2 separate regions of the Homo sapiens genome follow, and region 2 is linked to region 1. The links come from fine-mapping of genetic effects on gene expression. Tissue or cell type: sun-exposed skin. Region 1 holds a variant in brackets; the other region holds the start of a gene. All regions are shown on one strand. Distances are between the middles of the regions.

Region 1 (5,362 bases):
TGTATATTAAGCAGTCCCATGGCACACAGTTTTTGTTTGCTTGTTTGAGATGGAGTTTCACTCTTTACACAGGCTGCAGTGCAGTTGCATGATCTCAGCTCACTGCAACCTCTGCCTCCCGGGTTCAAGCGATTCTCGTGTCTCAGCCTCCCAAGTAGCTGGGATTACAGGTGCATGCTACCATGCCCAGCTAATTTTTGTATTTTTTGTAGAGACAGAGTTTCACTGTGTTGGCCAGGCTGGTCTGGAACTCCTGGCCTCAAGTGATCCATCCGCCTCGGCCTCCCAAAGTGCTGGGATTACATGTGTGAGCCACCGCACCCGGCCCCATGGTGTACTGTCCTATACGGGCCTCAATCAGGCCAATTTTGTTAAGGAGTTTGTTCGAATCTTCTACATCCCTCCCAATTTGTTCCATCATTTTCAGAGAAAGATATGCTAAAACCTCCCAAATATGATTGTGAATTTGGGTGTTTCTCCTTTTAGTTCTTTACATTTTGAGGCCAGCAGAGGAAAAAATGGATTTTTTTTTTAACCCACAACAGTGTTAATACAAAATAAGGCAGGGAAGAGAAGCCCCCTCGGAAGAGGTGGGACAAACAAAAAGCACAAAGTAAGAAAGTCTGTTAAAGCCTCAATAAATCAGTCAGTCAATTACATTTAAATGGATTAAGGGCTCCCAGTTGACGAGCAAAATCTGTCAAGATGGTTTATGAGATAAAATCCATAGGTTGTGCATAGGAGCCACATCCAAAACACAAACCCGCACAAAGGTTAACAGCATGCCTGCTGCTCTTGACCAAGCACCTTCAGCGGGGAGCAGTGAATCGTGGTTCTTGCACCCCGCAGGCCAGCCTCCCTTCCATCAGGACCCCTGGGGGTGGCCAGAAAATAATAGGGGCACGAGGAGCCCATTCATTCATATTTTGAAGCGGAACCTTCACATGTTCCTGCCTGCTGGGGGACTCTGGCTGGCAGACTGGGAAGGTCGCACTCAGATCAGCCAGGACCCGTTCGGCTCACCCAGGATGGAATGAGCAGCCTGGAGCCTTCTCTGCCCCCAATTCCAAACCCTGGAGCTCCTTTGAGTTCAAAAAGGTCCTTCAGTTTCTCCCATCAAAGGGACCACATTTCCTCTTCCAAGCCACACTGCACAGTTCTTAAAGGAGATGGGCACAGTGCCAAAGACCTAAACTGCATCTAGATTTTCCACTAGATCAATTCTAGAAGGCGTTTCAGTGACTGTGGACAGGTCCTGGAGACCTAGACCTAGGGAACTGCTTCTGCAGGAGGAACGCAGCTGCAGACCATGGAACTTCTTACCACTTATTACTTAGAATCCACATTCTTAAAACAACTTTAAACTTATTATATGGTCCAACTGGGTCTGGACCACCTAGACCAGGCTCAGTCCTGAATACCCTGGTCTGTCCCAGCAGGCAAAGGCTGGGAGGGGGCATCTGTGCCCAGGGTGAGGATGCGCCGAGTGCTGGCGGCACTGGTGAGGGCTCGAGCTCTCTTCCTAGCTCTGCTGGTTGAAGGCTGCCTAACTGTGACAGTCACTTACAGCCACCATGCTCATTTGTTCAGTCGTGCCTGTCAACTAGGGTTTGCGTGGTGGCTGTTTCGGAAGCCAGCAAAGCAAAACCACCTTAATGTGCCACACAGAAGTGTAAGGTGACCCCCCCTCCCATTGAGTCGACAGCCCAGTGACCCCTGCTTAGAAGGGAAAGGAGAATGGGAGGACAGGCAGGCACGATGGGACTGCACCAGCTGCAGCAGGGGTGGGCAAGAGTCCTCTCCTCACAGCCAGAGTCAGGGCAGGGGCAGTTTCGCTTCTCAACCCCCCTCTGAAACTGTGTCCCACCCCTTGCCGTGGCTCTGAAACGTGCCCGGCACTGCTCCCTGCTTATTAGAAGGAGAGCTCCTCAGGCAGGAGCAACCTAGAAACTTTCCCTTCCTGATTCTGTGCAAGCACGGCTGTGAGCGAACAGCCTCCGTATTTCAACAAACATCCTACTTGTATGGTCTTAGGATCTGTTTCCAGACAGTCACCTCGGGGCTCACTCTAGTCCTGAAAGCATCTTCCCATCCCTTTGTGATGTTCAGTCTGTTGCGGGCATTCCCCTCTGACAGGTGTCCTTGCCCTGCTGCTTCTACAGGGTGGCAAAGAGCAAGGGCTTCAGCTCCCAAGCTCAGCTGCAGGGCACTTAGGCCCCGAGTGTGTCCCCAGTGACCCTGACTTGAGGGACACACTGGGCGCTGCAGCCACAAGGCACTGCTCCTGTAGTCATGGTGGGCAGCCAGCATTGCCCCAGGCCACAGTGCTGGTGTCCCAGGCTCCTCAGGGACCTGAGGACAGGGCCAAGTGTGCCAGTCCACACCAGGCTGGCCCTGCCAGTCCACACCAGGCTGGCCCTGCCAGTCAACAGGTGCACATACAGGTCCTGAAACCACCTCAGGTCAAATAAGGGATTTGGGGGCACACAGGTTGCATTCTGCCTCTTGGGAAGATGATGCAAGGGAATGACAGGCAGGCTGGTTCCAACGCATTGCCAAGCGCCAGCTGAGCGGGCTGGGAGCAGGCACATTCCGGTAACCAGGACAGAAGTGGGCT[A/G]GTGATACCTGGTCATGTCTTTTCCCAAGACAAAACCAGGAAGACTGGCCCAGCCCGTTTGGTGTGTTACAGGCTGAACTGTGCCCCTCCCCAAATGTGTATGGTGAAGGCCTAACCTCCAGTACCTCCAAATGTGACCTCACTTGGAGAGGGGGTGTTTAGAGAGGTAATCAGGTTAAAATGAAGTCATTAGGGTGGGTCATAACCCCATACAACTGCTGCCCTGATATGAAGGGGAAATCTGGAGACAGCTGTGTAGAAAACACCATCTGAACAGGAAGACAGCCATCTACAGGTCAAGGGGAGAGGTCCGGGACCGATCCTCCCTCCCAGCCCAAAGCAGGAACTGAACCTGACACCTGGATTGTAGACTTCTGGCCTCCAGGACAGAGACAATATGTGCTGCTGTTGAAGCTGCCCAGGCAGGGTTCCTCTGTGAGGCAGCCCCAGGGGACTCAGAGTGTGCCCCAGGAGTCCTGTGGGAATTGCCCCACCCTTCCTGGCACACTCCTGAATGTTCTCGAGGATGTCTGGGAGACGAGGCAGCGTGCTGGTGGCACAACCAGCCCCGCCCCAGCGTGGGCCCACATGGACCTCCCTTCTATAGGAGTCAGGGCCTTCCTTAGCAACTCACTTCTTTAATTTCAGAATCCACAGAGGTAAGTCCAGCTTAGACCAGGGGGCTGAGTTCTCTCAAATGAAATCTGTGCCAATATTTACTCCAGGAAGGCAAGAGCCCAGCCCTTCAAGGCTCCTGAGATCAGGAACGGCTGGTGGTTAGGAGGCGCTCTCCTGGCCGCTCTAGCTGTGTGGGGCACCCCCTGCATATGTGGGGCACACGTGGCCTATGCACACCACCCACCTACAAGCTTGGGCGGCTCCAGTGGGAAAGACAGGAGAGGGAAGCAACATTTGATTGAATCTGAGCCAAGAGGGCCAGAGGCTGAGGAAGGCACCCCCACAGCAGCCTCCTGAGCAAACAGCACCTGGGGGCTCTACCCAGTTGGGACAAAGGGCGAGGCTCCCAGCAACAGTAAGGGAGATGGCGTCCTCTGGGAGAGGGTGGCCTGGGGTGGGGTGACAGGGCTTCCACGCCACCACTGCACCCTCGGCAAGAACGAGCAGATGTGGAGAAGAGGAATGCCATCAATGCGCCCCCCATCTCGGGTCCCTGTGCTCCCCACCCCACAGTTCTTCCTGGAGGGCCCTCTGCACTCCTCCCAGCAGGCTGCTCGGCTCCTTGGGCCGCTCTGGGATCCCGTCTGGTGCCACTCCTGAGGTCGGCACGTCTGCATCTGCACTGGCTGCAGGAGGAGAGGCTCCCTGCAGGGGTAAGGCAGCAGGCACTAAAGGGGGAAGGGGGCTCTGGTGGCCCCCGGTATGTGCGAGGAGGGGGTGTGCAGGCGGCGCAGCATGGCAGCTGGGTGTAGAGGACAGCAGCTGCTGGGAAGAGCTGCAGTGGAGCCCAGGAGGTTCTGCCGGGGGAGCGTCTGGAGGCAGCGGACGTGCCCGGCGAGCGGTCCCTCTGGAGAGTCCTTGCAGGTCACCAGCCCTGCAGCTCTCTCCCTGGCCACGCAGGATCTTTGGTTTAGGCCTCGTGGGTCCCTTCTGCCTCCAGTAGGGCAGATGTCTGTGACCAGGGCCATGAGCCCAGCGAGGTCCCCGTGGGAGGGTCCACATCCAGGAAGCTTGGCCCATTGGCCCAGGGCCTTGGGGGCGCCTCCCCAGCCGATTCACCTGGGTCCTCATGGTGGCCACTTCCTGAGCCAGGCCTGCCAGCGCTGTGGCGAGCCGATCCAGCTTCTCCGCAAGGGCAGCACCGAGGCTGTGCAGCTCCTGCTGCAGGGGCTTCCCACAGTGGCATGGCGGCTGCAGGGAGGAGGCTGGCAACACAGGAGGCGCAGCTTCCGGAGGGGGCAGCTCCGGAGGGGGAGACTCACTGGGCAGCTCAGGCGGGCCCTGGGGGAGCAGCCTCTCATGGGTCTTGGCTAAAACCAGAGCAAGGACCGGTCAGAGTTCCTGGTTTGTAAGGACCTTTCTCTCCCCAGAGGTCCCATGAACCAAGGGCGCTCAGTACTCTGCCTCCTCCAAGGCCCAGCTTCCAGAAAGGAAGGAAGGTGGGTGAGGCCTGAGAACGCAGATGCCAATGCTTATGGCATGAAAACTGGCTATGTCTCCTGGCTGTTCCCCAAACTGATGGGCAGGATCAACCACAGGTTGGGTTTCCGTGGTAACCAGGCTTTCCTAAACTGCGGTCTTCCCACCTTCTAGGAATCGGTGGGTCTTTGTGTTGTTGATGAGACCAAATGGCACCCTGCCCTAGGAGTCAGTGAGAAGGGTCCAGAGCCCCCGAGACAGCATGAGGCCAAGGCCGTGGGAGCACCAGGAGATGGGCCAGGAGGGCCAGGCAAGCCAAGGGCCTTCTGCGCATTTTTTGTGGGGTGACCCTGGGGCCACTCCAGAACTCAGTGCTCTTCGTTACAGGCAAACCACAAGGGTTCCCACCCCCTTCTGCTTTTACTCTCCCTATTGAGAAGTTACAGATTCATAGGAGTCATAAGCTTTTTGTTTTTTTTAAAAAAAGATCACCTAATCCTTCGCCCTAAATTCCCTTGGAATTGGTCCCAACCCTGGGCAAACCACAGGAAAGGCTTGGCCAGGCACCTGCCATTCCTAACCTGTTCAGCCCCAGGCCGGGCGCAGAGATGGTTTCTTCCCTGTTTCTCTGGGCCCCCAGCTGTGGCT
Region 2 (5,362 bases), 20 kb after region 1:
CAGTGCTCCCCTCTGGCCAGGCTGCATCTACACCCCTGGCAAGGGGCAGCCCCTCCCGTGACTGCCTGCCTGAGGCCCGGAGGCCCAGAGGCTGATGGGCAGTGAGATGCTGCAGCCTTTGCCTCCTGCCTCGATGTGCAGACTCTCCCTGAGCAAACCTCTGTGGCTCTGGCCCAGGTATGGTCACTCCCTCTCAGGAACAGTCTCAGACACCCTCCAAAACTTCTCTCAAAGAGTTATTTACATTTCTTCCTAGCATCTTGGAACAGAGAAAATGTAGCCAACATCAGGGTCTATGCAGAAGAGCGTGCAGAGCAGCCCTAGACCGCTGTCCTTAGGAAGGCCTGCTTGCCAGGAGGGCTCAGGCTGGCTTCCAGGTATTTAGGTGTCAGGAGGCTTCCCACCATTCCCTAAATGATGGGAGTGGCTCAAGGTGCCTAGGCTGAGCAAATGACGTGGTGTGTGCCACACCCCTGCTTTCCTTCTGGGAGTCTGGAATTTTGGTTCATGGCAGGCAGAGGGTTCCCACATGACATTCTGATGGCTCAACACAGAGCTGGCAAGGCAGGTCTGAGCTCTAGGTAAGAACATGATACCAGCTATGTTGGTTGCACTGGTACCACTGCTGACCTGATGTGGCCATTAAGAGGTTCCGGACCCAGAGACCGGGGCAGAGCACGGTGACTGGGGCCTAGCCTCAGGAGCCAGGCTGCCAGAATTCCAATCCCTGCCTTGTTTCATACTAGTTATGAGACCTCAGCCAAACCTAACCTATTTGGGCCTCAGTGAACTCATCTGTAATACTGGGATCATAACAACCTACCTCATAGAGGTATTGTGAAGACAAAACAAATACAGGAATAGTGCCTAGAACAAATGCGGGGACTATGAATATTAAGTGCTATGATTAGTAATACTGCAGCCAGACCTGTCTGCCTAATGCCCGCTTGCAGGTCTGAGCCTGCCAGCTGAGCTCTTCCACATACTGCTCCTGACCACCGGTGTCTCTCTCGCTCCAGACTAAATATATCCCAGCTCTTCCAGGAATCTGTAAGAGATGCTTTCCAGGCCTCTCACCATCTCAGCCTCAAGACAAACTGTTTTGTGATAAAATTCTTAGAAAATGAGAATGGGAACTGACTGTGGCCAGGGTAGGCGCTTCTGCCAGTGGCCTCCCTCTCCCCAGAAAAAGCAAAGAGTGAGGGTTTTGTGTGTGAGGGAGTGAGCAAGTGTGAGTGTGCAAACACCTGGGCTACAAAACTCATCTTCGGGAGGAGGAAGGCCACCACTGGCTGGCTCTGCCCACACACCACCGGCCTTCCTCCTCGGGCCCCACTTCACCTCCTTCCCCCAACCAATGGAGAAAAGCTTTCTGGGCTGACCCAGGACTCTTGTAACTGGGCAGCCTCCTAGCTCATAGCTGCACACTGGTCCTCCTAACATCACCCTTCCACCGTGTCACTAGCCCAGCACAAAAACTGCAGCTTCAGTGCCTGCTGGACCTGCCCCTCTCTCACAGTCCTTCCCAACCTAGACCTGCTCTCCCAGTGGGCCTCAGGCTCGGGCTCCCTGATCAGACCCTGCCACAGGACCTCTCAACCTGGAGGCTGTGCTCACATTGCCCTGGGCTTCTGGGAACCCTCCCTGCTCCTCTCCACCTTACAGTGACCTACCACTCCCCAAGGTCACTCCTGGCCACCTTCTCCATGAAGCTACGTAGTGTGAGGATATTCCCCTCATCAGATCTGAAAGGTCAATGGCCCAAACTCCTCACTTTACAGAACAGGAAACTGTGGTATGAGGAGGCCTTAGGATGGGGCCATGGGCATGTCTGAACCAGGGTGTCCCTAGGCTACTTAACTGTGCAGCCAGACCTGAAAAGGACACTTGACTGTCCCTGCCCAACAACATCCAATTTGCCTAGCCTCTCCCTTCTCCCCAAATGCTTGGGGGCACTAATGACGCCAAGGGCCTGGCACAGTGTTTGCTCTGCCTAGTCACACGCTGCCCCCCATCCATGGCTGCCTCGGACTGGCCAAAGCTCAGGAGCCACCACGGTTGCAGAACTGGCTCCAGGTGCCCATCCAGAAGAACGTGGAGCAGTTGCTGGTATCAGCACCAGATACCTGATACCTCACTGATATCAGCACCAGAGTTTCCCAGCATCGTCACAGCCCACACACAACCTAGCCCAAACGGTGCCCAGGCTGTCACGGCCTGGGGCTCTCCCTCCAGTTCTCAGATCTAAACGCCTTACCTGCAGGCTTCCCAAGACAAAACTTGGGGTTTGTTCTATCTTTGTTTCTCCCCATTTCCACGTCCCCAGCCCCCGGGATCCAGGATTCCACCAAGAACAGAAGTATGAGATTTACTCACTGCCTCCGAGGCCTTCATGCCCACTCTACCAGGATAACTTGTAACGAAACAAGCCACGCCAAGGGGGTTTCCCCAGGTGGAGACTGGGCCGTGGGTACCGGCGGCGGAGAGCTGGAGAGAGGTTGTCCGAGGACCTGAACTTCCCGGCACGAACCCCTGAGCATCAGGCCTGCCCAGCCTCACCCAGCCGATCCCGAAGTTGCGGGGGGGTCCCAGCTCTTTCTCGCCCTACCGCCTTCGGGGCCGCACTGCGCCGAGGGGTCCGCGCGTCCGCCTGCCTTACCTGGCGCGCCATCCCCGGGCTCAGCCTCCCCGCCACTCCTCGGTTTCCGGCGCGGGCCCTGGCGCGGGCGCACGCGACCCTCGTCGGCGGCGGCCCAGGTCCGCGCAGGAGAAGGCGGGGCCGGGGGCCTGGGCCGAGGGGGAGGGGCGGGGGTGGGCGCGCCCGGGCCCGCCCCCGGCCTCGTTGAGCCCGCCCCGAGCGCCTCGCATCCCTTGGTGGGTGGTGCCGTTTCCGCCCGGAGCCCCCGGCTTCGGCGGCCCGGCCGGCCGGCGCAGACGCGGACTACACTTCCCAGAAGGCGCCGCGGCGCCGGCTCGGAAGCGGGGGGCGGAGACAGGGCGGGGCGGACCTGGCTCGGGCCTCGTCCCCGCCCCCTCCCCTCGTCCCCGCCCCCAGCTGCGGGTAGAGGTTGCGCGCCGAGACCAGCCGGGGCGGCTGTGGGCGTGCAAGCCCGCGGGTACGCGCCGCTTATCACTCATTCATTCCCGCAGCCACCACTCAGCGCGTCCCATGTGCCAGGGGCTGATGGTGGGGATGAAGAGGGACCCATCTTTCCCAGAGGCCGCGGTCGGGGAAACCCGACCTGGAGTGAAAGGGGTCGAGGGTCCGGCCGGGCGTGGGTGGGACAGAGCAGCTGCCAGGCCCCCGTACATCCTCACGTCTTTCGCCCGCGCCCCCGCTCGCCGCAGCCATGACCTACCTTCGTGTCACATTTTGCGTGCCTGTTTGCTGGGGTGGTAACCCCAGTTGTTCCTGGCACATAGTAGGCCTCAAATAAACGTGTGATGCGGGAAGGAAGCGCGGCCCACTCTCCTCTGCCTCCCCCTGCGCTTCACGAGTTCGAAGGCCTGGTCTGGGCGGGCGCTGCGAGAGCGCTCCGGGGGTGCGGGCGAGGCGCAGCGAGCCTGGTTTTCCTGTCTGGAGAAGGACCCCGTCATTTTTATAGAAGGCTGCTGGAAGGGGGCCTGCGGGGCTAAGCCTGCTGTGCCAGACAGAAGCTTGGAGGGGAAGGGGAGGCTGTGGTCCCACGCAGAGGAGACTCTGCTCTGAGTTTGGAAGCCCCGTCCAGACCTTGCGGCCCAGACAGCGCTCTGCCTGGGCAATATCGGAGGGAAGGAAAGGGAATTCCTCGCCCAGTCGCCCGGGGCTGGCCCTTGCAGCCGCGCCGGCCATGATCACGGACTCGGGTACGATGCCGACAACCCCTCGTCCCGGCCTCCGAGGAAAGGCGCACGCCCACTCGGGCAAAGCCCCCTCGGTCATACCCGAGACACCTTAGACACAGGACCGGCGTGTGCGCAGCCTGCTGAACAAGGATTTGAAGATATCACAAGGCCCCACCTCGCGGAAAGGGAAAACTTAAAAGTCCAACTTTTCAAGAGCCCTACAGGCCACAGCCCTCAGGGTAAGTCGCCTCCTGGGCTTTAGGCCGGGTCCCACCTCCGTGCCGAGGTGAGGCGGGCTCCTTACAGTAATGTGTTCCTGCTCCCAGCTCCTCTCCACCGCCCACCCTCCGGCCCGGGATCCCTAAACGTTAAAACCCCCTAAATCAGGGGTCCCCAACCTTTTGGGCCAGAGCCCGGTTTTGTGGAAGGGAATTTTTGCATGGACTGGGAGGGGGGTTGTTTTGGGATGAAACTGTTCCAACTCAGATCACCAGGCATTAGATTCTCCTAAGGAGCCCGCAACCTGGATCCCGCATTCACAACAGGGTTCTGGCTCCTATGAGAATCCAGCACCTGCAGATCTGACAGGAGGCAGAGCTCAGGGGTAATGCGAGCAAGGGGGAGTGGCTGTAACTACAGATAAAGCTTTCCCTGGCTTGCCCGCAGCTCACCTCCTGCTGCACTGCCCAGCTCCTAACAGGCCAGGACTGGTACTGGTCCATAGCCCAGGGACTGGGGACCCCTGCCTTAAACTTAAACACCTGTAGAAAGAAATCTCTATCCAAGTAAGATGCACCTTTGTTTTAAGCTGTGCAGATTCTTGGCACCTCTTTGACTCAAACGTCCACTTCCTGGCTAGGCTTCCTGCCCCATTTGTGGACCATCAGTCGCTAAAAGCAGTTCACCAACATGAAATTTGCTGCATGGCCAATTATTTAAATTATGGAGACACTTCCTGGCACCCCTATCCCCCAAATTTTAGTTGCGCCTTTGACCCTGTAGACCTGTATTTACCTCAGCCCGTGTGTGTGCGTTAAAAAATAGTTGTGAAGACCTGTCCTGAACCAGGTTTATTGGATGGCTCTGGACACAGACAAAGGCAGGAGTGGAGCTGAAACACATCTTTAAAAATTCCTTGGCTGGGGCCAGGCACGGTGGCTCACACCTGTAATCCCAGCACTTTGGGAGGCCAAGGCTGGTGAATTGCTTGGGCCTGGGAGTTCCAAACCAGCCTAGGCAACATGATGAAACCCCATCTCTACAAAAAATGCAAAAATTAGCCAGGTGCAGTGGTGTACCCCTGTAGTCCCAGCTGCTTGGAAGGCTGAGGTGGGAGAATCTCTTGAGCCCAGGAGGCAGAGGGGGGTTGCAGTGAGCCAAGATCACACCACAGCACTCCAGCCTGGGTGACAGAGCAAGACCCTGTCTCAAAAAAAAAAAAAAAAAATTTCAATAATTCAGATTGGTTGTTTAGCAAGTTGATATTCAGTGGTTTAGCTTTTACCATATTTGGCTTTTGGCTATCTGGTCATTCTGT

Alleles and levels. Alleles are on the strand shown, and positions count from the first base shown. SD is a standard deviation of normalised expression in the study named.
As copies of G replace A in region 1, the expression in sun-exposed skin of the gene that starts at base 2,775 in region 2 goes up (moderate effect, 0.67 SD a copy in GTEx).

Evidence for each region.
Region 2: it holds the start of KRABD3, and the variant in region 1 is fine-mapped to the expression of KRABD3 in sun-exposed skin (GTEx, PIP above 0.99). The same link has a PIP of 0.9 or more in unexposed skin.

What each region holds. Positions count from the first base shown.
Region 1 is chr7:149,732,449-149,737,810 of GRCh38, reverse strand. It overlaps KRABD3 (KRAB domain containing 3), which reads right to left. Exons shown (of 17, transcript NM_001290187.2): 17 at 3,236-4,605. The coding sequence ends at 3,764. Among named protein-coding and RNA genes, the nearest start is that of KRABD3, 20 kb to the right of the region's middle. RefSeq lists an enhancer at 1,834-2,750. The variant A/G (reference allele first, on the strand shown) is at 2,618.
Region 2 is chr7:149,712,364-149,717,725 of GRCh38, reverse strand. KRABD3 (KRAB domain containing 3) reads right to left here and starts at 2,775. Exons shown (of 17, transcript NM_001290187.2): 1 at 2,660-2,775. The coding sequence starts at 2,671. RefSeq lists enhancers at 1,853-2,485, 3,123-3,622 and silencers at 2,688-3,127, 3,954-4,248.